3 separate regions of the Homo sapiens genome follow, and regions 1 and 3 are each linked to region 2. Evidence: fine-mapped expression QTL. A gene starts in region 2. Each other region holds a variant in brackets. All regions are shown on one strand. Distances are between the middles of the regions. Region 1 overlaps TIE1 (tyrosine kinase with immunoglobulin like and EGF like domains 1). Region 2 holds the start of SZT2 (SZT2 subunit of KICSTOR complex). Region 3 overlaps SZT2 (SZT2 subunit of KICSTOR complex).

The links. PIP is the estimated chance that this variant, and not a neighbour inherited with it, causes the effect.
Region 1: its variant is the best candidate, but not a certain one, in a credible set for the expression of SZT2 in esophagus muscle (GTEx, PIP 0.62).
Region 3: its variant is the best candidate, but not a certain one, in a credible set for the expression of SZT2 in whole blood (TOPMed, PIP 0.67).

What each region holds. Positions count from the first base shown.
Region 1 is chr1:43,310,381-43,320,372 of GRCh38, reverse strand. TIE1 (tyrosine kinase with immunoglobulin like and EGF like domains 1) reads right to left here. Exons shown (of 23, transcript NM_005424.5): 10 at 8,544-8,702; 11 at 8,242-8,379; 12 at 7,772-8,068; 13 at 6,948-7,238; 14 at 6,405-6,595; 15 at 2,964-3,174; 16 at 2,699-2,809; 17 at 2,301-2,491; 18 at 1,025-1,138; 19 at 844-914. Among named protein-coding and RNA genes, the nearest start is that of TIE1, 14 kb to the right of the region's middle. The variant G/A (reference allele first, on the strand shown) is at 5,181.
Region 2 is chr1:43,385,794-43,395,785 of GRCh38, reverse strand. It overlaps SZT2 (SZT2 subunit of KICSTOR complex), which reads right to left and starts at 5,887. Exons shown (of 72, transcript NM_001365999.1): 1 at 5,791-5,887. The coding sequence starts at 5,817. MED8 (mediator complex subunit 8) reads left to right here and starts at 5,986. Exons shown (of 7, transcript NM_201542.5): 1 at 5,986-6,027; 2 at 7,358-7,476; 3 at 8,139-8,283; 4 at 8,788-8,928; 5 at 9,116-9,197; 6 at 9,560-9,808. The coding sequence starts at 6,022. RefSeq lists a silencer at 5,567-5,896 and an enhancer at 7,337-7,476.
Region 3 is chr1:43,408,230-43,418,221 of GRCh38, reverse strand. It overlaps SZT2 (SZT2 subunit of KICSTOR complex), which reads right to left. Exons shown (of 72, transcript NM_001365999.1): 5 at 3,009-3,140; 6 at 2,121-2,262; 7 at 1,581-1,687. Among named protein-coding and RNA genes, the nearest start is that of SZT2, 23 kb to the right of the region's middle. The variant A/G (reference allele first, on the strand shown) is at 4,988.

The sequences.
Region 1 (9,992 bases), 75 kb after region 2:
TTCATTTAACCCTCACACCAACCCTATGATACAGGTTCTATTAGTCTTGCCATTTTACAGATGAAGACACTGAGGCACTGAGAGGTTAGCTAGATTGCCCAAGGCCATACAGCTAGTTAGTGGCAGAGCAAGCGTTCCAACTCAGGCTCCAAAGCTCTTACTCTTGACTGCATCTCACACTTTAACAGCCTCTGTGTAGTGTGCATCAGCCCTGAGACCAGGGGAGAGAGTTCAAAGGGGGTGGAGGGAATCAAGGGAGTGTTGGGGCAGAAGCACGAAGTAGGCATGTAGTGGTCAGAGGAGTGATCAGTGTGGTAAGCAGTGAGCCATGCAGGCAAGGCCAAAGGGCTTGGGGCAAGGGGTAGGTTCAGATCAAGATGGACATCCCTGGAGAGACAGGAGGAGTGTGCCAAGAGGGCTGTCTGCAGGGGAGGGGGCACAGAGAGGGAGTCTTGGGGGTCATGCTCTGGTAAGATCCTCAGGTGGGCATGACCTTGCCCTTCAGGGAGGAAGATGAGAGCAATTCCTGAGTGGCCTCTCCATCTACCTCAGGAAGCATCCGCCAGCATTCCCAAACCTCTCCAAGGCATCCCCCGTCACTTACACAAACATAATCCGAAACTACCTTTACCCCAGTCCTATTCCTGAAACACCTTCCAAGACTCCTTCCAGCAAGCCCCACCTTGGCTAGGTACTTTATACCCAAGACACACCTGTGTCACACCTGGAACACAGCCCAGGTCATGCCTTAGACCACCTATGACATTTCTGAGATATGTCTAGGTCAGGCCTGGGTGATTCTTGGGGGCCAAGCCCTCCTGTGCCCTCTCATCTCACACTCACACATCACTCTTGGTGGTATAGACACTGTAGTTCAGGGACTCAATGGCCATCCAGCGCACAGGGAGACGCCCCTAGGAGAGAATGGGTTTGAGGGGCTGAGTGTGGAGGAAGGGCCTGTTTGAGGCTCCTGTGGGGCAGGGCCAGGCACAAGCCCTAAGGGTGAGGGTTGAATGAGACTCACCATCGTCTTCTTCACATAAACCTCCTCTCCCCGAGAAAGGCCGAAGTCTGCAATCTTGGAGGCTAGGTTCTCTCCGACCAGCACATTCCGGGCAGCCAGGTCCCTGTGGATGAACTGTAGGCAGGGTCAGAAGTCAGGAGAGACTGGGGATGAGGGAGCCCAGGACAGTCAGGCCAGTAAGGAGTCAGTCTTCGTGGGTACCCTTGTTACCTTCAATACCCCATACTCCTACCCTCCTGGCTGCAATCTCGTCAGCTGACTCATATCTGAGAAAGATCAGTGTTGGCTCTCACCCGCTCGTTCCTGGGCCCTGACCAAGTTCAGGCTGGATCCCTTTTCCTGAGACAGTGGTGGCCATACTGCACCTTCTCCTCTTTCCATGCTTCTCCCCCTCCCTCTTCCCATCCCCTGGGTTCCAGTTTCTCTCCCTTAGCCCTCCAGCTTCCCCAGAGACCTCTCTCCACCAGCCCCTCCCTCTGCACTGGCCCCTTCCCCTGCCCCTCTGCTTTCAAACATACTCAAAACTTTACTATCTTTAAAATGCTGGCCAGGTGCAGTGGCTCATGCCTGTAATCCCAGCACTTTGGGAGGCTGAGGCGGGTGGATCACTCGAGGACAGGAGTTCGAGACCAGCCTGGCCAGCATGGTGAAACCTCGTCTCTACTAAAAATACAAAAATTAGCTGGGTGTGGTGGTACATGCCTGTAATCCCAGCTACTCAGGAGGCTGAGGCAGGAGAATTGCTTGAACCCAGGAGGCAGAGGTTGTAGTGAGCTGAAATCGCACCACTGCACTCCAGCCTGGGCAAAAAAGTGAGACTCAGTCTCAAAAAAAAAAAAAGATAAAATGCCTTCCCTCAGACTCACACTCCCCTGGACAGTCATCCCCCTGTCCTCTCATTCAGGCCTGAGTTGACTTGGGCTTGGATCTCTGCCCTTCCCCCTCTCCGGCAGATCGCACCAGGCCCATTGCCATTAGGCACCATCTGTGGGGTGACAGCTCACACACAGATGCTGTCTCCAGCCTGGGCCTCTCTCCTGAGTTCCAGGCTAGCATCTAGACCTGCTCACTCAACACCCGCACCCTCCATACTGGAAGTCCCCACCTCCTCCAGACCTGCCCCTTGGCCCTGCCTCCTCGCTGTGCTTGCACCCACCCACACACTTGGGCCAGGAACCTCAATCCCCAGATACAATCAGGGCCGGCTGACTTCTTCCACTGACACCAGCCCAGTGGCTTCCCCCTCTGGCCTCCACCCGCCCCCACTCACACACACCTGCTTCTCACTCAGGTACTGCATGCCATTGGCCGCATCACTGGCGAAACGCAGCAGCTGCCGGGAGCTAAGGGTAGAGGCTGTCCCATGCTCTCGAGCAAAAGCTGGGTCAGTCTCTAGGACCCGGCTTTTCCGCAGAAAATCTAGCAGGTTCCCGTAGGGGGCATATTCAATAGCGATATACAAGTAACCTGAGAGGCAAAGAGACAGACAGTGGTGATTTAGACACAGGCAACCTAGGGTGGGAGCAGGCACCCGATGGTAACAGACAGGGATGAAGGAGGATCAAGGGTGGTGCACAGGTCACCAGCAGCCCCTGGCAAGCTACTCATGTGGTGGAGGTGATGGCTGAGGATGGGGGTTTGGAAGAAGGGGTAGGTGATGAGCTGGGGGCTCACCTCGGTTCTTACAGGCCCCCAGGAGGTTGATGATGTTGGGGTGATGCCCCAATTTGCACAGAACTTCCAGTTCTCCCGCAAAGTCACGATGGTCATTTTCAGAGGCATACTCTGTGTAAAGAATCCAATATTATTTTGCCAGAAATAACTCTGGAGAAAGGGCTGGCAAGGGCTGGGGTCAATTGCTGGAGGAAGCCAGGTGGGGCCTGGGATTTGTGGGACAAAGGAGAGCATCAGGGCTGGGCCAGGGGTCGCCCCAGTGGACCTTTCAGCATTTTGATGGCTGCGTTCATCTTCAGCCCGTCCTTCTTGATCATGGCCCGGATGACCTGGCCGAAGTTCCCCTCCCCGATGAGGTCCTCAAAGGTGATGTCCTCCCACTCTAGCACTGGGTAGCTCAGGGGCTCGGGCTGCAGTTTTGGCCGCCGGGTAAGTGTCAAGGTCCCTGAGCTGAACTGCAGGATGGTCTCCTCGCCCTTCACAGGATGAGACAAGAGGGCAGACGGTCCACGCAAGAGTCAAAGGGGGCGGAAGGAGGCACAGACAGGCACACGAGGAGGTTTCAGTGTCAGACAAGTGGGCAGAGACCCAGATGGAGGGCACCCTGGTGGTCAGCCAGGGACAGACAGGCAGACAGAGGACATAACTGAGACAGAATCATAGGTAACAGAGCCACAGGTAGGCTGCTGGGTGGACAGATGTCCAAGGAGAGAAATGCAGAGGCTGCAGCCAGGGGATCTAGTGTACGGGACTCTGGAAGGCAGAACCAGGGCTTGTGGGTAAAGTTGCTAGAAGCCACAATGTGAGTCAATGGAAGGAGGATATTTCTAACATTTAAAACAGAAAAGGATCGGAATGAGCTTCCTATGACTGTGCTAATCCTACAACCAGGCTTTTTGTTGTTGTTGTTGTTGGGGGTCACCAGGGAAGCTCTGGAGAAGATTCCAGCCTTAGGGAGTAGGCCAGGGGACATTTATTGAGCACCTACTACATGCTCAGCCCTGAGCTGCTGGGAGCCAGTGGAGGGGTTTTCTCCACAGTAGCAGAAGCAGAGATTACCCTGTCCACACACTTGGCTTTTCTCCATAGCTCTAAAATCAGGCCAGGACCTGAAAATAGCAAGACTATAACAAAGAGGAATGTCCAATTTCCTAACTCAGTAGGAGGAGGCCATCTGGGTGGGGCTGATGGTGGGAAAAGGAAATAAGTGAACAGGACCAAAGAAACTGCCAATATGAGAACTGGAAGCAGGGTTAAGACAGACCTTCTGGTGGGGCTTCCTAAGTGCACTGAAGTCCAGCTTGATGGGCAAGGGCTGAGGACCTGGGGCCCAGGGATTTGCAAGAAGCACTGGTGCTGACGGCACATAGCAAATGCACGTGATGTTCTTGGGCAGCACCATATGTAGGTGCATCATGTATAGGTCCATACACACATGCAGGCCTGAAGGTGCACAGGCATAGGGACACGTGCATCTGGGACACACGCATTTAAACATGTGGCACTCACAGGGGATGCACGTGTGCACTCATACATGGAGCACACACATTTGTGCACACACGTTTCCTATCCATATGCAGGCACATGTACCAGGGATATATCTTTTTGTTTGTTTTGAGACAAGGTCTCGCTCTGTTGCCCAGGCGGAAGGGCAATGGCACGATCTCAGCTCATTGTTACCTCGAGCTTTTGGGCACAGGCAATCCTCCCACCTCAGCCTCCCGAGTAGTTGGGACCACAGGTGCACACCTCCACGCCCATCTAATTTTCATATTTTCTTTTATTGTAGAGATGGGGTTTTGCCATGTTGCCCAGGCTAGGGGGATATATCTTGATATAGAGTATGACACCATGTATGTTAAGGACTGCTTTCCCACCTCCTGCCCTCGACATCTGTACCCATTACCCTCCCCCACCACAGCAGTGAGGGCTTTCTGTGTGCACTGACCTCAGAGGAAGAGCCAACACAGCTTGGAACAAAGAAGCCAATTGAATCTCTGAATGGATTTTTTTTTTTGAGATGGAGTCTCACTCACTCTGTCATCCAGGCTGGAGTGCAGTGGCGTGATATTGGCTCACTGCAACCTCTGCCATCCGGGTTCAAGCAGTTCTCCTGCCTCAGCCTCCCTAGTAGCTGGGATTACAGGCTCCTGCCACTGTGCCTGGCTAATTTTTGTAGCTTTAGTAGAGATGGGGTTTCACCAACTGGGCAGGCTGGTCTTGAACTCCTGACCTCATGATCCACCCGCCTCAGCCTCCCAAAGTGCTGGGATTACAGGCATGAGCCACCACGCCCGGCCTCTGAATGGATTTTTCAAAGGCATAGCAGAGACACTAGGCTTTCTATCACAAGGATCAGCCCTTGAGAGAGAAGAGGGTTTTCTTTCTTTTTTTATTTTTTATTTGAAATGCCAAAGCTTAGCTCTAAATATCAAGAGTCCAGGCCTGGAAGGCCAAGGACAGAGTTCAGATCCTAAGTGAC[G/A]ACAATGAAGAAGCCCTCAGAGGAGACAGGACCTGCGGATGGGCGGCTAGAATGTGACAGGATAAAGTGACAGTGGGTGCCCTCCCACACCCCACCTCTAAGCAGGGGCCTGAGGGACAGAAGGGTGTGGGCTACAGGAGGACAGACAACTCGGGCAGGATTACAGGGAAGCCAGGAGGAGTGGAGGTTTGTGCTTCCTCTTTCAAGGAGCAGGCCAGCACAATTCTGGAGTGGTAGAAACAGTTGTCTAAGTGGGAAGGGGTTGTGGCAGCGGTCTGAGGGCCACAGAATATGCCTCCTTCCATAAGGTATAAGGAAGCCCCTACAGTTCTTTAGTTCTGTTTCTTTTTCTTTTTTAATTTTTTGAGACAGGGTCTTGCTCTATTGCCCAGGCTGGAGTGCAGTGGCAACATCTCGGCTCACTGCAACCTCCGCCTCCCGGGTTTAAGCAATTCTCCTGCCTCAGCCTCCCGAGTAGCTGGGATTACAGGCATGCACCACCACGCCTGGCTAATTTTTGTATTTTTAGTAGAGACAAGGTTTCACCATGTTGGCCAGGCTGGTCTCAAACTCCTGACCTCAGGCGATCCACCCGCCTCAGCCTCCCAAAATGCTAGGATTACAGGTGCAAGTCACTGTGCCCAGCCCCTTTCTTAAGTCTCCAAAAGGAGGCCCTGGGATTTGCAAGAATGAAGGTTAGGATGAGGAGCTCACAGCATGACTGGCCTACTGGCAGGTGGCCACAGCAGGGCTAAGAACATCAGCCAAAGATGTGTGCAGACAGAGGCTGGCTCCCGAGCCCAGGAAGGCCTGCAAGGACAAAAGCCAGCATGAACCCCAAGTGCCCTTCCATTTGATCACCTTGCTATCTAGGCCTAGATAACCGCTAGGGAGAAATAAAAGAGGGGAGAGGAAAATCTCCAATTGACGGAGCCCAAAACTGGAATGTCCATTGTGAAATATGGTCATCACGGAATTCTTTTGAAATGGGAATATTAAATATTTCACCACTAATATAAATGGGCTCATGAGCTGAATTCAGTTTTAGAGAAATAAAGAAAATTATATTTTGTACCCTTGAACATTGTTGAGTGTAATCTTATACCTGCAACATAAACACACACACACACACACACACAAGGTGTACAAGGTATTGTGTGTACACAGGTAGAAACATAAACACGGGCTGCAAGCATGCACCCAGGGGCGGGGCGGGTCACTGACCGAGCCTGACTGGTAGGTGAAGGTGCGTCTCCGATGCAGGCAGCTTCTGCGGATGCACACCAGGGTTAAAAGGGCAGCCAGGATGGTGAGGCAGGTGGCAGACACGGAGCCCACCACCGCCAGGATCAGCTGCTGATCCAGGCCCTCTTCAGCTGCCCGGCTCTCTTGGACTGGGCCCTCAGCCTGCAGCCCTGGACACAGTGAGAGGGGCAGATTGTGGGGACACCTGGGTCAGGGAACCCAGAGGCCACCATGGGGTTACACAGAGGGAGAGGTGAAAGATCCCAGTGCCAGGACTGTCAGGAAATCACTTGGGCCACATGAAGGAAGGGATGAGGGGTGTCAGAGGGGCGACATGATTTTCCCAGCCCTGGGACAGTGGATCATGAGAATGGAAGGCTGAGTCCCCAGGACTGGGGCTGACTCTTTGTCAGGAGGGGCCTGGGATGCCCTAGCTCCACAGTAGGGGGTGATGTGGAAGGAGAGCGTGCTGAGCTCTCCCCGCTCAGAGCCCGGGGGGTCCTGTGGGCCCTGCCCTCTCACCGTTGCCCAGGGTGGACTCTTCTACTGTGTTGCTCCAGTCCCCGAGCCCCTGAATGCTGGCCCGCATGCGGAAGAGGTAGCGCGTGCTGGCGTTGAGGCCACGGATGATGGTGCTTGTCTCCTCAGGCCTGTCCACGTCTATCCACAGTGGGTCTCCTGCACCCCCAGCCACCTGCACCTCCACAACGTACTTGGATATTGGCCCAGGCAGAGCCTCCGGGTGCTTCCATGTCAGCTGGATCTCGGAGTCTGAGAGGGCCTGGGCGTGGAGGTGTCGGGGGGCTGGAGGCCCTGGGGAGATGGTGGGGGAAGGCAAGGCTCAGATAGGACCGGGCTATGTAGCTGTGGGGCTGGACACATCTGCTCTAGCTGTGCTCCCTCCTCTGTGGGTCCAAGCACAGGGGCCACCCTGCCAACTTCCTCCTCCCCACCAGACTGAATTCCTCTCCATTCCCCCAGGCCACTTTCACCCTCAAGCTTCTGCTTCTCCTTGTACTTCTTGTATCCCAAGTCCTCTCCACATCCGCCCATGCCCTGTGTTCCGCAAGTCTCATGCCCTCCCATGACCCTGGTTCTCGCCATGAACCCTGACCTCCCCATGCTCTCCCCACATGCTCCTGGTGATCTGTGTCCTCCTGGTACCCTGGATCTTCCCCAAGTCCCATGTCCCCGCTGGGGTCACGTCTGCCTAATACCCTATGTGTGTCCTGTGTCCTCTCCATGTCCATTAATCTCCTACAGCCTCCCGTGTCTCCTAGGTCTCATGTGTCCCTGTGTCCCACGTCCTCCCCCAACCCCCAGCTATCCTTGCGCCTTGCACATACCACTGGGGGGCAGAAGCACGTGTGCAGGGGGCGAGGCCGGGCCCAGGAGGGTGCAGTGGTAGAGCTGCACATCCAGCTGGTAGTGGGTGCCAGGCGTGAGTCCCGTCAGGAGGGCAGTGCGGGCCTGGGGGGATGAGACGTTCTCCCGCCGCTCCTGCCCCCGTGTCCCGTCCCACAGGCGCAGCAGGAAACCGTCGCCCACCAGTGGCCCGGGCACCAAGGGCAAGGACCAGCTCACTCGCAGCCGGTCAGTGCCTTCCACATGCCAGCCCTCCAACCACGGCTGCAACAAAGGCTCTGGGGCCAGAGGTCAGGGGTCAGAACTGTCCAGTAGGTACTTGGGGCTGGACAGGACAATGATCCCCAGTGAACAAGGAAGAACAACCTCCAGTGGGAAAGGCAGGGGTCCCTGGGGTCGACGGGAAAGTAACCCTTGGGGGGACAGGAAGGGATGACTCTTGGCCTCTCACCAGGACAGTCTGTGGTCATGAGGGTGGGAGGCCCCCAGGCCCCCTCTCCTCCTTCCCCTGGCCGGCTCAGCTGCACACGAACACTGTATCCTGTCTTTGGCCTCAGGTTCATTAACGTCACGTTCTCACTGGGGTCCACTGGGCGTGGGGTGTAAAGCACACATTATTCAGCCCCCACCTCTTCTAGAAGCTGCCATGCTCCCTTCAGCCCCCTCGCACCATTTGCCCTCCCTCTCCTGCTCACTGTATCCCTTCACTATTACCCAACACCTCTGTCCTGCCCCAGCTCTCTCCCTACTCACCCACAATGGTCGACCAGTCCATGGTACTGTCCTGGGGCCGGTAGTGCAGGCGGACAGTGGAGATGGGTCCATCCCCAGAGAACGAGACCAGCGGGGAGACCACAAGCTGGCGGCTCTGCTTGGTCAGGAGCCGAGGTGCAGCCAGGGGCACGGGGGGCACTGCCAGGAGACTCAGGGTAAGGCATGGGCACACAGCCTATCCAGTCCACTTCTGCATCTTTGTTTCAAGCTGGGGACCCTCTGGGCTTGAGGGACACCAAGTTCAACAGATGACCATAGTGGCCAGGGCCCAGGGAGGACAGAGTTCAGGCCCCTGGGTAGCTTGGGGCACAAGGATTAAGCAATAAAGGCATGAGGGTGTCCCAAAAGATGGTAGATGAGGAAGTGACATGGCCAGACATGGTTTGGGGGTGCACTCTTCCCATGCAGTGTGGGGGTAGACAGAAGGGGCCGAAACCCAGGTCAGGGAGACTACCTGGGCATCATCCTGCTCTCTGCCCCTGCCCTCATTCACCACTCTCTTATTAAAAAAAAAAAATGGCACTGGCACTGAAGCACCTGCTCCCCGCCACACGCTTCATAGCATGACCTCTAATTCTCACAGCCACCTTTCTGTCAGGGCACATTACCCTGCATTATGAAAACACTGAGACTCAGAGACACCGAATAACTTGCCTAAGGACACACAACTAGAAGGAGATACAGCCATGTGTTGAACTAGGTCTGTCTGCGCAGGCCGCCTCAGATCTATCCATTCTACTCCAAAACAGCCTTCTTGTTCCTGCCCCACTTCCTCACCCCATGATCGCTGCTCCTATTCTGGCCTCAACTTTTTCTCTCCAGATTATTGCATTAGTGCTTTTAACAGGTTCCCTTGACTCTTACAAATGTTTACCAGATTGGCTTTTTGAGAGGAAAGGAAGGAAGGAAAGAGGGAGGGAGCGAGGGAGGAAAAGGATGCCGCGCTGTAAGCTGAGGGAGTGTCAGGCAGCAATGAGCATGTCAGGAGGGCAGTGCTGATTTGCGGGGAGATGAAGGTCCATTTTGGGTGCAGAGAAGCCCTTGGTGCCTTTGGCTCACGCAGGGGATTAGATGTCCAGGAAGTGGCTGGATATAAAATGGGCCTCCGAATCATACAGCAGCTACTTTCCACACCAACTTCAAAACCAGACTTCCAGAGTAGATGCCCCACTTCATGGAGTCCCCACCAAATGATCTGGAGTCAGAAGAGGGGTCCTGGCTGCAGATCATATGTGAGAGCTGCCAGAGAACTATCAAAATCTAGGGACTAGGTGACATTTTAAATAATAACAATAATTATCGACATACATTGAGCACACACCCTGTATCGGGCACTGTGCTAAATGCTTAAATACATCATCAAATTTAATCTTTGTAACAACCCCATCAAGTGCTAGCTATCCCCATTTCACAAAGAGAGAAACAAAG
Region 2 (9,992 bases):
CTAGGCACTGGGCTGGGTCCTAATGATACAATGAAAAGCAAACACATGCATTCCCTGCTCTCATAAAACATATTCTATAGTGAAGGACAAAAACATTGATCAAATAATCACTGTGACTATTGTATAATTACACACTGAGTAAGTGCTCCGAAGGATAAGAATGTGGTTCTACAAAAACAAGTAACAGCCACGTGCAGTGGCCCATGCCTGCAATTCCAGCACTTTGGAAGACCAAAGTGGGCGGATTACTTGAGCCTCAGGAGTTTGAGACTAGCCTGGGCAACATGGCAAAACCCTGTCTCTACAAAAAATTATGAAAATTAGCTGGGTGTAGTGTCATGTGGCTGTAGTCCCAGCTACTCAGGAGACTAAGGTGGGAGGGTCGCCTGAGCCCAGGGAGGTTGAGGCTTCAGTGAGCCATGATCATACCACTGCACTCCAGCCTGGATGACAGAGCAAGACCCTGCCCCACTCCCTGACCTCCCCCTCCTCCCAAAAAAGCAAGCAAGTAACAAAGTAACCTGTTCAGGCTAATACCTTAAGAGAAAGTGATGCTGAAGGTTGAGCAAGGTTTGTTAAGTGAGGAGAGAATGGGGGTAAACGAGACAGAGGGCACAGACTATTAGAAAGCTTTCTTCCAATTACCAGTTAGTAGGCCACTAAATTTTACTACTGTACAGCTTCCATTTTTTCCCACCTTTCCTTGAAGGTTATTTTGAATGATGGACTGACTCTCCAAAGGCACAATGAAGTCTAGCTCATCAATCAGTTCTTACAGAATCCACCTTCCTGAAATCAAGAACATTTGCTGAACATTTGCCTAGTCTTCTTGCAACATCCCCCTTTACATATGATCCTTCAAAGTCAACAACTATATTTTCTTTTTCTTTTCTTTTTTTTTTTTTTGAGATGGAGTTTCGCTCTCGTTGCCCAGGCTACAGTGCAATGGCACCATCTCGGCTCACCGCAACCTCCACCTCCTGGATTTAAAGCAATTCTCCTGCCTCAGCCTTCCGAGTAGCTGGGATTACAGGCATGCGCCACCACGCCCGGCTAATTTTGTATTTTTGGTAGAGACGAGGTTTCTCCATGCTGGTGAGGCTGGTCTCAAACTCCCGACATCAGGTGATCCACCCGCCTCAGCCTCCCAAAGTGTTGGGATTACAGGCATGAGCCACCGCGCCCAGCCCAACAACTATATTTTCAAAACATCATTTCTAAGTTCTCTTCACTTTCAAGATGTAATTTATCATAACTAGAAGACTTAATAATTTAAGCAGCTAGAATGGTGTTTTTCAAAGTGGGATCCAAGGACCAGCTGCATGAAAAATCACCTGAAGTGCTTATGAAAATACAGCGTTGAGTCCCAGGCACCACCCCAGACCAACTGAATTAAGAGTTGATGGGCTCCAGACTGGGTGCTGTGGCTCACACCTGTAGTCCCAGCTACTCAGGAGGCTGAGGCACAAGAATTGCTTGAACCTGAGAGGTGGAGGTTGCAGTGAGCCAAGATCACGCCACTGCACTCCAGCCTGGGCGACAGAGCAAGACTCCATCTCAAAAAAAAAAAAAAAAAAAAGAGTTGATGGGCTCCAGAATCTACATTCTAACAAGGTCTCCAAGTGATTCTTCCACATTAACATTTGAGAATCCCTGAATTAGTTCTCAGAGCATCCACACTCACATGGAGCTTCAAGTCCTCATATGAATCCTCCTTGAGTCTGAAGTTCATTACTCTCAGAGTAGTCTGGCAAGGAAGACAAAGTAGAGTTTCGGGGTCAGGGACCTGGATTCAAATCTGATTCTATCATTTGCTATATAGGTGACCTTGGACAAGTTACTTAATTTTTCCAAGCCTCGGTTTCTTTATTGATAGTATGTGGATAAGAATATCTTCATAGGGATGTCGTTGCAATTAAACAGGAGAGGAAGGCTATCATTCTTTGGAATATTTATTGAGGTCTACATACCATTTATACCAAGATGAATAAAACATTACCAGGCACTGTGCTGCATACCATGTATACCAGGAAGAATGAAGCATGGTCCATCTCATTAATTTGTTGCTTTGTCTTTTTGTGCCTGTCCCTTTGTGATTAAGGTCTGATTTGTTCAGCCTTTTCTAACCCTTGTGCTGTCTTTTGTTAACACATTCCCACAAAATAATGTGGATTATTTCCCCTCTTGAACTGGCTAAAATCTTCTTACCACTATACATCAAAGTCCTGAGCCTCTAGCATGGCCTCAAGCTGCATCTTCTCCAGCCTTATCTCTCACCAATCCCCACGCAGTTAAAAGCATGTATTCCAGTGTTAGAGCACTTAGGATCAAATGCTTGCTCTGCTGATTATTAACTATATAGTTTTGGCAGAGACTTACACTCTCTATGCCTCAGTTAGCTCATCTGTGAAACACAGATAATAAAAGTGCTTATTTTCAGATAATTTTTGAGTATCAGATGATACTCAGTAAGCATTCAGTAAGTGCTAGCTATTCTCATTGTCAAACTGCATCCACACAAGGAGTTGCTTCCTCTTAGTTCTCTGAAGGCTCCACTGGGCTCCTTCTCACCTGAAGATCTTCACTATTCCCTTTGCCTGCAATGCTCTCTGCCTCTTCTTTTAGAAAACTTCTACCTATTCTTCAGGCTTCAGCTTAAATGTCATTCTTCTGAGTCTTCCTATTCACAACCCCTTGCCTCCCCATTTCTTAACAAGGTAGGTTGAGAACCACTGTTAAACACCCTAATTCACTCCTTTACAGCACTTATTATCCTAATTCAATCCTTGTTTACTCCATAAAGATAGAGAGCATGTCTGTCTTACACGGCTCTGTATCCACCCTGATACTTAGCACAATTCTGACTCCTACCAGCACTCGTAAAATATTTCAAGTGTGTGATGAATGAATGATTTCCTAAATCTGACTATACCCAATCTTTCTCTCTTGGGATCCTAACAGCCTCTAAAAGTCAATAACTTTATTACACCCAGGGGCAGAACTCTTCAATCTCTTTACCTTCTGATAAAATTTTCAGAAATGCAAATCAGGGAGTTAAAAAATGCTTAACTTAGGCTGGGCACGGTGGCTCACGCCTGTAATCCCAGCACTTTGGGAAGCCGAGGCAGGCGGATCACGAGGACAGGAGATTGAGACTATCTGGCTAACACGGTGAAACCCCGTCTTTACTAAAAACACAAAAAGTTAGCAGGGCATGGTAGCAGGCGCCTGTAGTCCCAGCTACTTGGGAGGCTGAGGCAGGAGAATGGCGTGAACCCGGGAGGCGGAGGTTGCAGTGAGCCAAGATCGCACCACTGCACTCCAGCCTGGGCGACAGAGCGAGACTTCGTCTCAAAAAAAAAAAAAAAAAAGCTTAACTTTTGGCTGAGACTCCCAGGATTGTGTGTCTTGACTTGAAATTACTTTAGATCTGTACTGCTCTATATGGTAAAGACTACTATATGGGGCTACTGAGCACTTACAATGTTGCTAGACCAAGATGGGATGTGCTATCAGTGTAAAATACAACACTAGATTTTAAAGACTTGGTACCAAAAAAAATGTTAAATATCTCACGATGTTTTGTATTTTATTACATTTTGAAAATTTTGGGAGTTTTGGGTTAAATATATAATTACATTTTATTTCATTTGTTTCATTTTTTTTTTTTTTTTTTTTTTTTTTTTTTTTTTTTTTTTTTTTGAGACGGAGTCTCGCTCTGTCGCCCAGGCTGGACTGCAGTGGCACAATCTCAGCTCACTGCAAGCTCCGCCTCCCGGGTTCACGCCATTCTCCTGCCTCAGCCTCCCGAGTAGCTGGGACTACAGGCGCCCGCCACCACGCCCAGCTAATTTTTTGTATTTTTTTTAGTAGAGACAGGGTTTCACCGTTTTAGCCAGGATGGTCTCGATCTCCTGACCTCGTGATCCGCCCGCCTCGGCCTCCCAAAGTGCTGGGATTACAGGCGTGAGCCACCGCGCCCGGCCTTGTTTCATTTTTTTATGTGGCTATCAGAAAATTTAATATTACACATGTGGCTTGCTTTAGATTTCTACAGGACGGTGTTGTCCTAGACTATCTGCCTAAAAGGTATGTTGCATTTCCCCACAACATCCCTCCACCTCCTTTCACTTTAATCTATAATGAAACATCCTCTAAACTGTTTCATAGTTTTTCTTGTGTTAATATTTCTGATTGATCTTGATTGATATTTCTGATGCATGAGCTATTCTACCACCTCTGTGAACATGACTATTTTAAATAAGGCATAGTTTCCTACCACCATATTCAATGTTGGGTCTTACCACACCAAATCCCAGTGAACTGGAGATTTACCATTCTGTGGCTACTTTATTACTTATACCATGAACAATATGGTTAAGAACACAAGGACTGGAGCCTGGCCATCTGTTTTGGAGTCCTGACTCTAATACTTAATAGCTGTGTAACTTTGTTACTTTTTTTTTTTTTTGAGACGGAGTTTCACTCTTGTTGCCCAGGCTGAAGTGCAATGGCATGATCTCAGCTCATCGCAACCTCCACCTCCCGGGTTCAAGCGATTCTCCTGCCTCAGCCTCCCGAGTAGCTGAGATTACAGGCCTGCGCCACCATGCTTGGCTAATTTTGCATTTTCAGTACAGACAGGCTTTCTCCATGTTGGTCAGGCTGGTCTCGAACTCCTCACCTCAGGTGATCTGCCCACCTCGGCCTCCCAGTGTTGGGATTACAGGTGTAAGCCACTGCGCCCGGCTTACTTTGTTACTCTTAATATCTCTGTGCCTCAGTTCCTAAACTAAAAAAAGGAGATGATACAGTGTCCACTTCATAGGGCTGAGGATTAACTGATATTGGTAAAGAGCTTAGAATGGTACTGAGCATGCAGTATGTATGCAGTAATGAATACTATTTCTATCATTATACACATCTCTCACCCTTCCCACCTACTGATATGTTGGCACCTTTCCTGGTGGTGGTGTTTTATCCGAATCTGAGATTTTAAGCTCAGATCTTCTAACTCCAAACTGCTAGTTCCTGGATGAGTGGCATTTGAGTAAGGTACTAAATCTTTCTCATTTTTCAGTTTTCTCCTCTGTGAGAATGCCACCTTCCTTGCACAAGTCTGAATGACACAACATATATAAGGTTCCTTGCATGTTCCTTAGCATTTAACGAATATATCATATCACCTTTCTGGTTTATTACATGTGATTCTCACAACACACTATAAGACAGATATTTTATAAAGAAGGAAACAGGATCCGGGAAGACTCGCCTGAGGTTGCACAGATTAGCTACATGACAGCGCCAATATTGGAACGAGGTCTCAGTCCGACTCAAATGTTTTTTTCATGAAATTAAAGCTGCTTTTCTAAAAGCATGAGCCCTAGAACTAAATAAATTCATGCTGTTTATGGTATTCCAATGCCTAAAGAAATGCAAAAACCAGCAAAGTAAATCTACTGCCGTGTTGCCCATTGAAACTGCAACAGAAAGTCAAAATACAAGTTTTGTTAACACCGCTATAAGTCTTAGAGACGACGACGCGGGTGACATGTCAGTAAACAAAACAAAGCGAACAGTTACTCCTTTAGCTCCCCGAGGAAACTGCGGACCGCGTCCCATACACAGTCCGCAGGGGTACCATAGTCGGGCCTTCCGGGCTGGGCTGGTCCCTGCCGAGGCTACGCAGCCCGGCCACCCCCAGACCTAGAGGAGGCCAACGCCACGCCTGCCCGCCGGACCCTCCCCCTCGGATCTCGGGGCCCAGTGCTGCGCCCGCCCGCCCCTCACCTCCGGCTCCGGGCGCTCCGAGGCCATCACACAGCCCTCCCGCGCCGGCCCGGGCCAGTGAGGGTGTTCCACTCTTGACCCCTGACCTCGCTACCTCGGCACCCAGCAGGAACCGGAAGTTGGTGGGAGGGCCGAGTTCCAGTTTTCTGATTGGTGGACGAAGCCTTCTCGTAGGCGTTTGCTGACTGGAAAACCGGAAGTGAAATCGTGGCAGCCGCCTCGGCCGCCGCAATGCAGGTGAGAGTTGCGTTGGGCGTACTAGCGGCTGGCAAGCTTCGGGTACAGGGACCGAGAGTGGGCTGGCTAAGGAGAATGAAGAGTTGGGACTGAGAAGAGAGGGCAGAACCCACGGCTGATAAGGGAATGTGGGCTGGGGGGCGAGGCTAATTGGAGCGGGAGCGGCGGCGATTAGAGGTGGGGGTGGAGCTTGCCTGACAGGAGACAGTCGGGCTAAATCCGGAGGGAGGAGGCAGCACCTGTTTGCTTGGCGTGGGAAAGGATTAGGTTGTAATACGGGGAGGCTGAGATGCAGTCCAAGGAAGACGGCTCAAGAAGGTGGTGGGTTGGCTCAGGCCCTGTCCTAAGCTGCTGGATGGAGGCTGTTGGTTGCCGATATAGCAGGGGATCTAATTGGAAAGAAGCCCAAGCAGTGAGGGAATTGTGGGCCGCGATGGCTGAAAGCTAAGCAGCTTATAATCAGAGGCCATGGTGGAACCCGGGATCAAGTTTCTGTCAGGCAGGTTTGCAAGACAGTTTTGCATCCCTCTTCCCAGCCTGTGCCCTATAGTTGTTAAGGGTGAAGAAATGGAGTAAAACAGGAGACCACCGATGGGAAGGAAATGCTTTGCAGACCCCCAGCATTTTAATTTGTTTGTCCAGTGCTTAGAAGCATGTGTGGTTTTTGTTTTTCATTTGTCACTTAGTTTCTTGCAGCTGGTAGTCTCAATAAATGTTAATGGGTTGACTGAGCTTGTGAAAGAGGCACGGGAATATTGACACAGAGATAGATGATTGCATATTAATTCAGCAAGGAGAAGGTTGAAACAAAATGATGAGAGCAGATGGAAAGCTGGAGTCGTTGGTTGGGGGAGGGAAAGGGGAGAGCAGGACTGGTGTTCAGAGAAGTCTTCATGAGTAGGCAGATTTCCCAGAGACTGACAAGACAGCCAGGCTCACAGATGCTAGGATGGAGGAAGCTGGAGTGCATGTGCTACAGAGGTGCACATGAGAGAATGATCTCCTGGCATTAGGTCTGTCGAAAATGTCTCAGTGAGGGAGTGTAGGGTGTACCTAACACAGAGAAAAACCAGGCATAGATTAGGAGGTGATGGGGAAAAGGAATCAGTTGGTGGAAGGACTTGGGGTCAGGCAAACAGGTTGGAAGGTCTCAGGGTTGATGCTGTCTATAACCCAAATACCAAAGATAGAAAACAACCTGGCTATCCTATGCCAATGAGATCCTGTGTTACCTGACTGGTGTTGCACACCATCTCCTTGGCTTTCCAGCCCTCCTTTCTATGTGTCATACTCGTTTATCTGGGTGACCAACCTGTTCCTATTGGTGCAGAGAGAGGAGAAGCAGCTTGAGGCATCATTAGATGCACTGCTGAGTCAAGTGGCTGATCTGAAGAACTCTCTGGGGAGTTTCATTTGCAAGTTGGAGAACGAGTATGGCCGGCTGACCTGGTAAGAGTTACCAGGGCAAGCTAGGAAGGGCTTATGGGTGGGGGGGCCTAGCCTCCTGATGAATAGGACATTTCTAATGATGTAACCATTTATCAGTTTGCAAACATCTTTTGATTTGGAAAGAGCTGGGTTTCCTAACATTTAGCAAGTGGATTCCATGGCAAGGAAGTAGAGAAATGCTCAGTTTCCTAACCCAAGTTCTTTCTAGCTTTCAATTCTTACCCTTTGACTTCTCTGGTGAGGAGGTCCTCCCACTACAGCTCTATTCGTGCTGGATCTCTTGCCACAGATGTGGCTGAGTCTTTTAGAGCCAACCTACTCTGAAGTGTGGATCTTATTTCCAGGCTGGAAAGGAGGCTTTTACCCGGTTTCTGAAGTTTTAGTTATAACAGTGTAGCCCTGGTTCCTATTTTGCCACTGTTCCTCACCCCATTCAAACAATGAACTGGGTTTTTTCTACGTCTGTTTCATAAACTGAAACTATGTCCCTCTTTCATAGCCCTGTCATCCCTGTTAGTCTGTTCCCACTTAGGCTAGTCATAGGGCTATGAGACTTTTGGAGGTGAATCCAAGTGTTCCTAGCCTGAAGGAACTAGGACTATTTTACTAAGAACCACCCAGGGAAGGGGTACAACATTCTTACACCTTGTTACCACCACCAGGCCATCTGTCCTGGACAGCTTTGCCTTGCTTTCTGGACAGCTGAACACTCTGAACAAGGTCTTGAAGCATGAAAAAACACCGCTGTTCCGTAACCAGGTCATCATTCCTCTGGTGTTGTCTCCAGACCGAGATGAAGATCTCATGGTAAGAGGAGAAAAAGAATACAACTTGGGAAATTAAGGGGTTTTTTAGGCTTCTTTAGTATTTAGGGAAATTAAGTTATTAGCTGAGAGCCTAGAAATAATTTTGGAGGCCTTGCTTTTTGTTCTTCTGAAGGCGGGAGAGCCACTCCCAAATAGTGCTGTAATAACCTGAGGGGTATGTCACCAAGGCTGATACCTTTCTTCTCCAACATCTGTCTCAAGCCACAAAGTTTGCCCTTTTGTGACTTTGTCTATTCCAGTCTTTGAAGCGTGGCAGACAGTGATAGTTTAATTTGCCCCTAGGTCTGGTAGAGATAGGGATGTGAGAAGACACAAAAAATGAAGGATGGAGTAAAGGAGAGTGTGTCCTAGCAAACTAGATATTATGTCTCAGGTTGTATTTTCCTTGAAAATGCACTGTTTGCCTGTGGATGGGACTTTATGTCAGGCCAGATAGAATCTTCTTGGAGTACAGAGTAGGATCAATAAAATCTGTGTGTTACAGCGGCAGACTGAAGGACGGGTGCCTGTTTTCAGCCATGAGGTAGTCCCTGACCATCTGAGAACCAAGCCTGACCCTGAAGTGGAAGAACAGGAGAAGCAACTGACGACAGATGCTGCCCGCATTGGTGCAGATGCAGCCCAGGTTGGACTGAGTCACTGCCTTGCTGCCCCATCCCCATCCCATCATGAGAAGCTAGGCATTACCATTCCTGTCTAGTAGGGATACATAGTTGGTTGCGCCTAAGTTGCTTCTGGCAGAACCCAAGGAATAAATTTCTCCATATCGTTTCCTAGTTACCCTAATCTCTGCACAAATTTGTGTGTTACAGAAGCAGATCCAGAGCTTGAATAAAATGTGTTCAAACCTTCTGGAGAAAATCAGCAAAGAGGAGCGAGAATCAGAGAGTGGAGGTATGATGGGACTGGTGGCTAAACAGAGAAGGAGAGGTATATAAGATCACTGGAATGGGAATGGTTGTTTTGGAAGTAGTGAAGTTAGGACACAAGGGTGAACTGCTTTGGGGTTTGTATCCATTCTGTTAGCCTTTTGTATTTAAGGCCAGCACTGAAGCAGTGGAGGAAATGGGCAAAGTAAGAAGAGAGAATTCTGAGATAGGCTTGGGGGTCCTCTGGCTCTTTTTCTGGGCTGTGAGGGAGTCTAGATGTTGCTGAATTCAGAACTCCAAACCCTGGCACTCATACTGGTCTTCCAGCTGCCACGTTCAGTCCTGCATCAGAAGCATACTTCAGGATCCCCATTACTTTTTCTTCAGGTCTCCGGCCGAACAAGCAGACCTTTAACCCTACAGACACTAATGCCTTGGTGGCAGCTGTTGCCTTTGGGAAAGGACTATCTAATTGGAGACCTTCAGGCAGCAGTGGTCCTGGCCAGGCAGGCCAGCCAGGAGCTGGGACGATCCTTGCAGGAACCTCAGGATTACAGCAGGTGCAGATGGCAGGAGCTCCAAGCCAGCAGCAGCCAATGCTCAGTGGGGTACAAATGGCTCAGGCAGGTCAACCAGGTAAGGTGGCAGGGGTTGAAATGAAGCTGACTTTGAGCAGGAGTGGGAGGGAATAAGCTAGATTATCTGGGCCTCCAGCATCTCTAGACCTAGAGGTTTTCTCTATTTCTCCTTTTCACTGTGACCCAGGAAATAATTTTCAGAAGTAAAAAAATCTCATCTGAGACTCTGCAACAGGCACCAG
Region 3 (9,992 bases), 22 kb before region 2:
TCTGGTTACCATTCTCTCTCTTGCTCTGCTGTTTATCTCAACAGCCAAATTTCTTTTGTCAACACTTGTCCCTATTTCCTTCCTTCTATCCACTCTTCAATCCCCTCACCACCTCTTCACTAAAATGGCTCTGAAAAAGATCCCCGTGACCTCCTAATCACCAAATCCAAAGGGCACTTTTCATTCCTCATTTTACTTGATCTTTTTGCTACTTCTCACAGTGTAGTTACCATTGTGAGAAGCAGCAGAAAGATCCAGTAAAATTTTCTTCCAAAAATTCTGACCTTCTCTGACATCACAATCTTCTGGTTCCTGGCTGATTCTTCATTCCTTGCTGGGCCCTCTTCCTATGAAAGACCTTGAACACTGGTGTTCCCCAAAGTTCTTCCAGGACCCTCTTCTGTTCTCAATTACCATCTGTACCCTGATAAATCTTAAATCTCTACCTCTCAAGCAGTGTTTGTCTCCTGAATATCAGGATCTGTGTATTCAACTGCTACCTGCTACAAATAGCAGCCATTTCTTAAGTGATTACGTACAATGCTACATACTTTAAATGCATCTCACCTCCCAGTGAGATAAGTACTTTTACAATCTCCATTTACAAATGAATCTGACCTAGAGGTGAAGTGATGTGCCCAATGTCACACAGTTAGTAAGTGCAGTCAGGATTTAGACCAGCATGCCTAACTCCAAAGGTGATGTTCTTAACTGTCTGTGTTGAACCACAGGCACCTCGAACACAACATACACAAACTTGCATTCATCATCTTATCCTCACTCTACCACAACTGCTTCTCTTCCTTTTGCTCTGCTGCTACCCAGTCATCACTGGAGTCAAAAACTTGGAGACAACTTTAAGCCCGCTTCTCTCTCATCTCCTTACCCCCATCTTGCTAATCATGAAGTCAGGTTGACTCTGCCTCTTCATTTTTCTCAATCCTCTTACCCCTAATTTAAGCCCTGATCCTCTCTCACTGCAATTAGTAGCCTCCCCGACTTCCCCCGTCCTTCACCCAGCAGCAAGAGTGACCTTTATAAAACATAAACCCAACTAATGACTTTCCTTCTATCTATCTGCATCACCCACAGAATCATGCTTAACCTCATTAATAAAGCAGAACCAGATTTTCATGTTCTGGCCTGTGCCTACCCCTTCAGCCTTGTTTCCCATAGCTTTTTACCTCCTTCCCTACAGTCCATCAATCCAAATTAGCTGCAGTCCCTGGCTATGCCTTTTCCCCCTTTGGTTAAGCTAGTTTGAGCGGGGTTTTCTGACCCTTGCACTCAAAACAATAATGACTAATCTACAAGGGGAGGTGGGACTGGAAATGACTGTCAGATTTCAAATTCTGCATTCTTTTTGCTTTAACAGCTATTTCCAAAATCCTAAGGAAAGAGGAAAAAAATAAGAGTCCTCTCCCACGATGCTACCTACCTTCTAGATATGACTCCTTCCCCCCATGTAACTAAGTAATTGACTTTATCTGGGAAATCACTGCCTGTAAGAAAGTAATCAGCCATCCCAACTTTGTGTGAGATATTCCATATCTCTCTCGTCCTTCCTAAAAAGTCCTCACCTGGACAAAGGAACAAGCCACAGTGCCACTGCGAAGCTGGTTCAGCAGTGTCTCACAGACAGCAACATCAGGTACACTGGTCACCCCATCCGTGATCACGATAATCCCTGGAGCAGGAAACACCAGATCAGACCTGGAGACACTGGCCAGACCAAACTCACAGGGAGGCACCCAACTGACAGGGTCCTGAACGGCTCAGTGTCTTCCCACCAATGTCGGCAGTTTCATAAACTGTGAAGTTTTATAAACTTCAAACACCTTTCCTTCTCCCTTACCCTCCTGCTTCTTCCTCTTGAATGCCAGATCATAACCTCCCCTAAGTGATATCCTTGGAGCTCTACTCCTTCTAGGGTCTCTGATGGTTGTCAGAGTCGAGGGTTCCTGATACACACTAATACAGACTTACATTTTGCAAACAAGGAAACAGATCCTCTTCCCTGGGGCCCACTGATTCCCTGGAACTGCTATCTTTGTTAGCAGTCAGCCCCACCCTTCCTGTATCCCTGCTTCCCCAGTCCCACCAATATTCCTTCTACTGACCTGCACTAGAGTTCGAGGGTAGTAACTGCAGTGCCAAGATGCCCTGACGAATCATACTGACCAGCCCAAGATCAGCTGTCACCATGGAGACGCCTACCTTCCGGCCCAGTAGGTCCCCTGAGTCTGGGGACTGGTCTTCTGCCTGCCCCAAGTTACAGAAAAGACAGAATGGGGCAGATGGCATTGCTGCCCCATCCATAGCAAAGCCAGAATTTATAGCCCAGCACTTCTCAGGCCAGACAGGCCGAATCCTGTGAGAACCTCAATTCCCCTACTATGCGGCTGAGTCTTGACTGTGCTTCCTCCCTGTGTGTGCTCAGATACTGAACCTCAGAGGTGAAGGGAGTTCGGCATCAGATGAAGCTTCAGACTGTACTGAAGTAGGGCTTCTCCATCTTTTGCCAAGAAGGGCCCCTTTCCACATTTTTCCATCACTGTTATGAAATATTTTATACCTCAATCAAATTACATGACCAGTCATCAGGCACACAGGACTGCCATTTGCCTGGCTACTTCTGGGGTACCCAAAGTGATGAGACAGGGAAGTCTAGTGGGCCTAGGCAGCTTTATCCCTGATTGTACAAAATGCTAACTAGAGGTCAAAGCCACGCATAATCACCTTCTCAGATCCACTGGAGGAGATCTGGGGCTAAAAAAAAATGCAAACAAATGGATTTCACATTTTTTCCCTGAAAGAATCTGTGTTTTGGGGAGTATATCTGAGTCCTGCTCCAACAGGGAGTGTGTCATGAGCATGCCTATCCTTGTCTCATTTTGCCCCAGCTCTTAGCCCTTTTTTGCCCTATTTGGACTATCCCTCCTCTCTGCCCTCTGTCCTTAGCTGCTCCTCTTTCTAAGTTGCCTCTGCCCACTTTCTCTCTTACATACCTGGCTCTGGGGATCGTACTGCTGCTGCAGCATGGTGGCCACCTTATCCTCAAAGAGGCAGAGCTGCTCATATATCTGCTGCAGGAACACCTCCCGCTGGGAAGGGTCCAAGAGGCAGCCCTGTACCAGCACCTAAGAAGCACATGGGAAAGACTGAGACAGGACGGTCAGGGTGGCACAGACCACTACACTTCTGCTCTGTTTATTCTCCATAGCTCCATCTAGGCGATCCTGACTTCCTACCCAACCAGGGTCTAAGGTATGACTCCACAGCCAATTTCCCCCTTATCCAATCTCCATCAGTCCTCAGCCCAGGTCCCTAGTCATTAGTCATCTTTATCTGGGGTCACAACTTCCCTCTGCTTAGGGTCCTCCACACTGGGCTTCCCCAACCCCCCACATGGGGGCACTATAAGATCTTCTATTAATAGCTTCTTCTACCTTGGCCTACAGGATGTCTTATGAGCTGCCCCTCCTCAGCCCGGCAAAGCCTTTTTTATTCTCATACTTTTTAATGCTTTTTTATTTCTAAGCATACTGACCAGCCCAAGATCAGCTGTCACCATGGAGACTCCTACCTTCTGTACACACAGAGGCTATTCTGGACCTTTTCAATTTTACAAAAATTAGCTGTGCATGGTGGTGGGCACCTGTAATCCCAGCTACTTGGGAGGCAAGAGAATTGCTTAACTGGGACCTGGAAGGCAGAGGTTGCAGTGAGCAGAGATCACGCCACTGCACTCCAGCCTGGGCTACAGAGTGAGACTGTATAAAAAAAAATTTTTTTTTAAAAATTTTTGTGGGTACATAGAAGGTGTATATATTTATGGAGCACATGAGATATTTTGATACAGGAATACAATGTATAACAATTAAATCATGGTAAATGGGGTATCCACCACTTCAAGTTTTTTTTGTTTGTTTGTTTGTTTTTTTGAGACAGAGCCTTGCTCTGTCGCCCAGGCTAGAGTGCAGGTGCGATCTTGGCTCACTGCAACCTCCGCCTCCCGGGTTCAAGCAATTCTTGTGCCTCAGCCTTCCTCAGCTGGGATTACAGGCATGGGCCACCACACCCAGGTAATTTTTGTATTTTTAGTAGAGACGGGGTTTCACCATGTTGGCCAGGCTGGTCTCAAACTCCTGGCCTCAAGTGATCCACCCACCTCAGCCTCCCAAAGTGCTGGGATTACAGGCATGAGTCACCATGCCTACCCACCTCAGGCATTTATCCTATTTTTTGTGTTACAAACAATCCAATTTTACTCTTTTAGTTATTTTTAAATGTACAATAAATTACTGTTGACTGTAGTCAGTCTACTGTGCTATCAAGTACTAGATCTTATTCATTCTTTCTAACTCTATTTTTGTACCCATTAACCATCTCCCCTTCCACCTCCCCCAGCTACCCTTCCCAGCCTTTGGTAACCATCGTTCCACTCTCCATCTTCATTAGTTCAATTGTTTTAATTTTTAGCTCTCACAAATAAATAACATGCCAAGTTTGTCTTTCTGTGCCTGGCTTATTTCACTTAACATAATGTCCTCCAGTTCCATCCATGTTGTTGCAAATGACAGGATCTCATTCTTTTTTATGGCTGAATAGTATTCCATTGTATATATGTACCACATTTTCTTTATCCATTCATCTGTCAATGAACACTCAGGCTGCTTCCAGATCTTGTCTATTGTGAATAGTGCTGTAATAAACATGGGAGTGCAGATATCTCTTCCATATACTGATTTCCTTTCTTTTGGGTATACACCTAGGAGGGAGGATTGCTAGATCATATGGTAGCTCTATTTTCAGTTTTGTTTTGTTTTGTTTTTTGTTTGAGATGGAGTCTTGCTCTGTCACCCAGGCTGGAGTGCAGTGACACTATCTCGGCTCACTGCAATCTCTGCCTCCCAGATTCAAGCAATTCTCTGCCTCAGGCTCCCGAGTAGCTGGGATTACAGGCATCTGCCATCACGCTCAGCTA[A/G]TTTTTGTATTTTTAGTAGAGACAAGGTTTCACCATGTTGGCCAGGCTGGTCTCAAACTCCCACCTCGGCCTCCCAAAGTGCTGGGATTACAGGTATGAGGCACCGTGCCCAGCCTATTTTGTTTTTTGAGGAACCTCCAAACTGTTCTTCATAGTGGTTGTACTAATTTACATTTCTACCAAGAGTGCACAACGTTACCTTTTCTCCACATCCTCACCAGCATGTTATTGCCTGTCTTTTGGATAAAAACCATTTTAACTGGGGTGAAATGATACCTCATTGCAGTTTTCATTTGCATTTCTCTGATGATCAATGATATTGAACACTTTTTCATATACCTGTTTGCCATATGTATGCCTTCTTTTGAGAAATGTCTATTGAGATCTTTTTTAAGATAAAAAAAATCCCATTTTAAAATCAGATTATTGGATTTTTTTTTCTTATAGAGTTGTTTGAGCTCCTTATATATTCTGGTAATTAATCCCTTGTCAGATGGGTGGTTTGCAAATATTTTCTCCCATTCTGTGGTTGTTTCCTCACTTTGTTTATTGTTTCCTTTGCTGTGCAGCTTTTTAACTTGATGTGATCCTATTTGTCCATTTTTGCTTTGCACGCTTGTGCTTGCAGGGTATTATCAATAAATCTTTGAGCCAAGCATAGTGGTTCACATGTGTAATCCCAGCACTTTGGGAGGCCAAGATGGGAAGATCGCTTGAGCCCAGGAGTTAGAGACCAGCTTGGTAGAGACCTCATCTCTACAAAAAAACTAAAAATTAGCTGAGTGGTGAAATGCACCTGTGGTCTCAGCTACTCAGGAGTCTGAGGCAGGAGAATCACTTAAGCCCAAGAGATCAAGGCTGCAGTGAGCTGTGTTCACACCACTGCACTCCAGCCCAGGCAACACAGCGAGACCTTCTATGGAGAACACAGCCAGTACCAGAGTTTATGCAGAGCGTGGGTGAAGCTGTTGATCTCTTTACAATCTGCACAGCCTATTGTGAGTATTTCTGGGCAGGCAGTTCCTCTGCCTGTTTCAGGAGAGGTTTACTGATTTGAGGCTTATATGTTAGGTCTTTGGTTTGGGTCTCATTTTAAGGGTTGTTTGGGGGCTGGGTGGTCGGCCTTACACAGGAAGCGGACAGACAGTGGATGAAGTCGCCGGGTGTGGTGGCTCACGCCTGTAATCCCAGCACTTTGGGAGGCTGAGGCGGGCAAATCATGATGTCAAGAGTTCAAGACCAGCCTGGCCAACATGGTAAAACCCTGTCTCTACTTAAAATACAAAACATTAGCTGGGCGTAGTGGCAGGTGCCTGTAATCCCAGCTACTCGGGAGGCTGAGGCAGGAGAATTGCTTGAACCCGGGAGGCGGAGGTTGCAATGAACCAAGATCATGCCACTGCACTCCACCCGAGGTGACAGAGTGAGACTCTGTCTCAAAAAAAAAAAAAAAAAAAAAAAAAAAGATAGTGGATGAACTTTTCTGCTCTATCTTGTGGGCAGGTGATTTTGCTTTTGTTTTTGTTTTTCATTCTTCCCCCTCCACAAGCCAAAGTCATTTCACTTGGTTTCCACTGTGTGGACAGTGCTGGAGCTCAGCACTTGATGGGGCTGGGTGAGCCCTAGGTTGCAGACATGGCAAAGCAGAGAAACTGTTCTTCTGGTTCCTGCCCAATCTCAAAGGGGCTAAAGCCCTTCCCAGGGAGGAGGGTGTTCAGGAGCCAGACTTTTGGAGAGGAGGCAGTTTCCAGTCTGCTGGGTGACTGTCATTCTGCATGTGTTCCCTGAGCTGGAAAGGGCTGGAAGCTTCATGCATGAACCATGGAGAAGTAGCCATCACCCCTGCCATGGGTAGAGGGCATCCTAACTGGGCCCCCTGGGTCAGGCTAGAGCCAACACTGCCAGCTGCCCCCTCTGGCCTGCTGGCAATGCCACAGGTGCCCAAGAAGATGGGGGATACCTGTGCCAGAAGCCAACCTGGTCTTCCCAAGGGGCAGTGCCCTCCATGAAGACAGAAGTGAGAGAATAAAGTTCCCTGTAGATCCTCTACTTTTGGGTTGTGTTTTTCAAATGCTGACATTTCAGAGGGGATCCTACAGAAACCCAGCTGGCTTCCCCCAAGGACTCCCCCTTTGCTGGGAGTGGATTTCCACATGTGCCTTTGATTTCATATAGATCAGGCTTTACAGTCACCAATTCAGCTGCCAGAGTCCCTGTACTGGGGGTTGGCATTTTCTACAGAAGAGGAATGGCCTCCCTCACCCTGCTCCCCACCCAGGCAGGGCAGCACAGGATCCAGCAACTCAGTGCTATCAAGATCCCCCCCCAACCCCCAATATACCCCACCTCAGAGGCCTTGCCTGGGCAACCTCAAGCCCCCGTTCCTCGCCATACACTGATGCCTGGCAGCTATAGCAAATGACTCATGTTCTTTGTCAAAGGCCTGTAGTGAGATGATTTTGTTTCCTTTGTTTTGTGAGTTTAAAATTGAAATTAGTTATTTCCTTCTGCTTAACAGTATTAAATAGAGCAGGATATTGAGTTAATCTGCTAGATTAGACACAGAAAAGAAATCTTTGCCCAGTCCAGTGTCATGGAGCGTTTCTCCAATGCTTTCTTTTAGTAGTTTCATAGTTTGAGGTCTTAGATTTAAGTCTTTTTTTTTTTTTTTTTTTTTTTTGAGACAGAGTCTTACTCTGTCGGCCAGGCTGGAGTGCAGTGGCGCGATCTTGGCTCACTGCAACCTCTGCTGCCCGGGTTCAAGCGATTCTCCTGCCTCAGCCTCCCGAGTAGCTGAGATTACAGGCACCTGCCACTGCACCCGGCTAGTTTTTTTGTAGTTTTTTAGTAAAGATGGGGTTTCACCATCTTGGCCAGGCTGGTCTTGAACTCCTGACCTCGTGATCCACCTGCCTTGGCCTCCCAAAGTGTTGGGATTACAGGTGTGAGCCACTGCGCCTGGCCAGATTTAAGTCTTTAATCCATTTTGATTTGATTTTTGTGAGATAGGAGTCTAGTTTCATTCTTCTGCATATGAATATCCAGTCTTCCCAGAACCATTTATTGAAGAGACTGTTCTTTCCCCAATGTATGTTCTTGGCATCTGTCAAAAATGAGTTCATTGTAGATATATGGCTTCTGGGTTCTCTATTCTGTTCCATTGGTCTATGTGTCTGTTTTTATGCCAGTACCATGCTGTTTTTGGTTACTATAGCTTTGTAGTATAATCTGAAGTCAGGTAATGTGATTCCTCCAGTTTTGTTTGTTTTGCTCAGAATAGCTTTGGCTATTCTGGGTCTTTTGTGGTTCCATATAAATTTTAGGATTGTTTTCTCTATTTCTATGAAGAATGTCATTGGTATTTTGATAGGAATTGTACTGAATCTGTAGACTGCTTTAGGCAGTGTGGGCATTTTAACAATACTGATTCTTCCAATCCATGAACATGGAATATCATTCCAATTTTTGGAGTCCACTTCAATTTCTCTCATCGATGTTTTATAGTTTTCATTGTAGAGATCTTTCACTTCTTTGGTTAATTCCTAGGTATTTTATTTTAAACTATCGTAAATGGGATTACTTTCTTGATTTCTTCTTCACATTGTCTGCTGCTGACATACAGAAATGCTACTGATTTTCTGTATGTTGATTTTGTATCTTGCAACTTTACTGAATTTGTTTATCAGTTCTAATAGTTTTTTGGTGGAGCCATTAGGTTTTTCCAAATAAAAGATCATATCATCTGCAAACAAGGATAATTTGACTTATTTTCCAGTTTGGATGACCTTTCTTTCTTTCTCTTGTCTGACTATTCTAGGTAGACCTTCACTTTTCTCTCTTTTACGCTCAAAATCCTCTCCTTATCCCCCTAATGAATGCTCCTTCCTTCCCTTTACCCTCAGCAGATAACTCCTGCCCTGTGCCCTCTTCAAAGAGAAAGCAAGTCAGTCAATAGGAACGCCCTGCTTACCCCAAACTGGAGGGTACACTACTCTCTAACTCTCTGAAAGCACCCCCAAAGTCTACTGAAGGTTTACATCTGTGTCTTTGTTCTTCCTTCAAGGTGCTGAAGCAAGGATTCCTCTTCCTTCTCTTTTTCCCTGTAGCTAATCTGTCCATCTAATCTTGAGCCTTTTGTCTCTCTAATATCTTCATTCTTTCTCCATGGGCTCCTTTTCTTCTACTTCAAACATAAATAAGTATCCCCATCCTAAAATTGTATATAGACCCAGCAGTCCCTGCGGTGGCCCTCAGGATCTCACCCCTCTTTCCCCATCACACTCGTACAACCTGCCCCACATGCCCACTTCTCTCGGACCCTGACCCCATGGAACAACTACTTTTTTACTCCCTGTTCCCAACTGGATAAGTGGGTCGGGCGAGCCAGAAAAGGGAAAGTGGGACATTGTCTCACTCTACAGGCCCATGGGAAGGAAAACGAGCAGAACTGGAGCCATAAAAAGGTGAGAAAGATGTTCCTATTCATATTATTTAGAATAATGAAAACTGAGACAACTCAAGTGGCCAAGTAGGGGCTGGCTAAACATATGGTAAGATATGATGAAACAGTAAGTTAACAGGACATTAAAAATCACATTTTCAAAGAATATTTAGTGACACACAAGAATGCCCATACTATATGTTAAAAAAATAAAAAAAAGGCAGGACAGGCTAAGCACAGCAGCTCATGCCTGTAATCCCAGTACTTTGGGAGGCTGAGGTGGGAGGATCACTTGAAGTCAAGAGTTTGAGACCAGCCTGGACAACATAACAAGATCCTGTCTCTACAAAAAAATTTAAAACAATTAGTCAGGTATGGTGGCATGCACCTGTAGTCCTAGCTACTTGGCAGGCTGAGGTGGGAGATCACTTAAGCCCAGAAGTTGAAGGTTACATTGAGCTATGATCATGCCTCTGCACTCCAGCCTGGGCAACAGAGTGAGACCCTGTCTCTTAAACAAAACAAAAAACAGGACATAAAATCACGTGTCTAGAATGAGCCTCT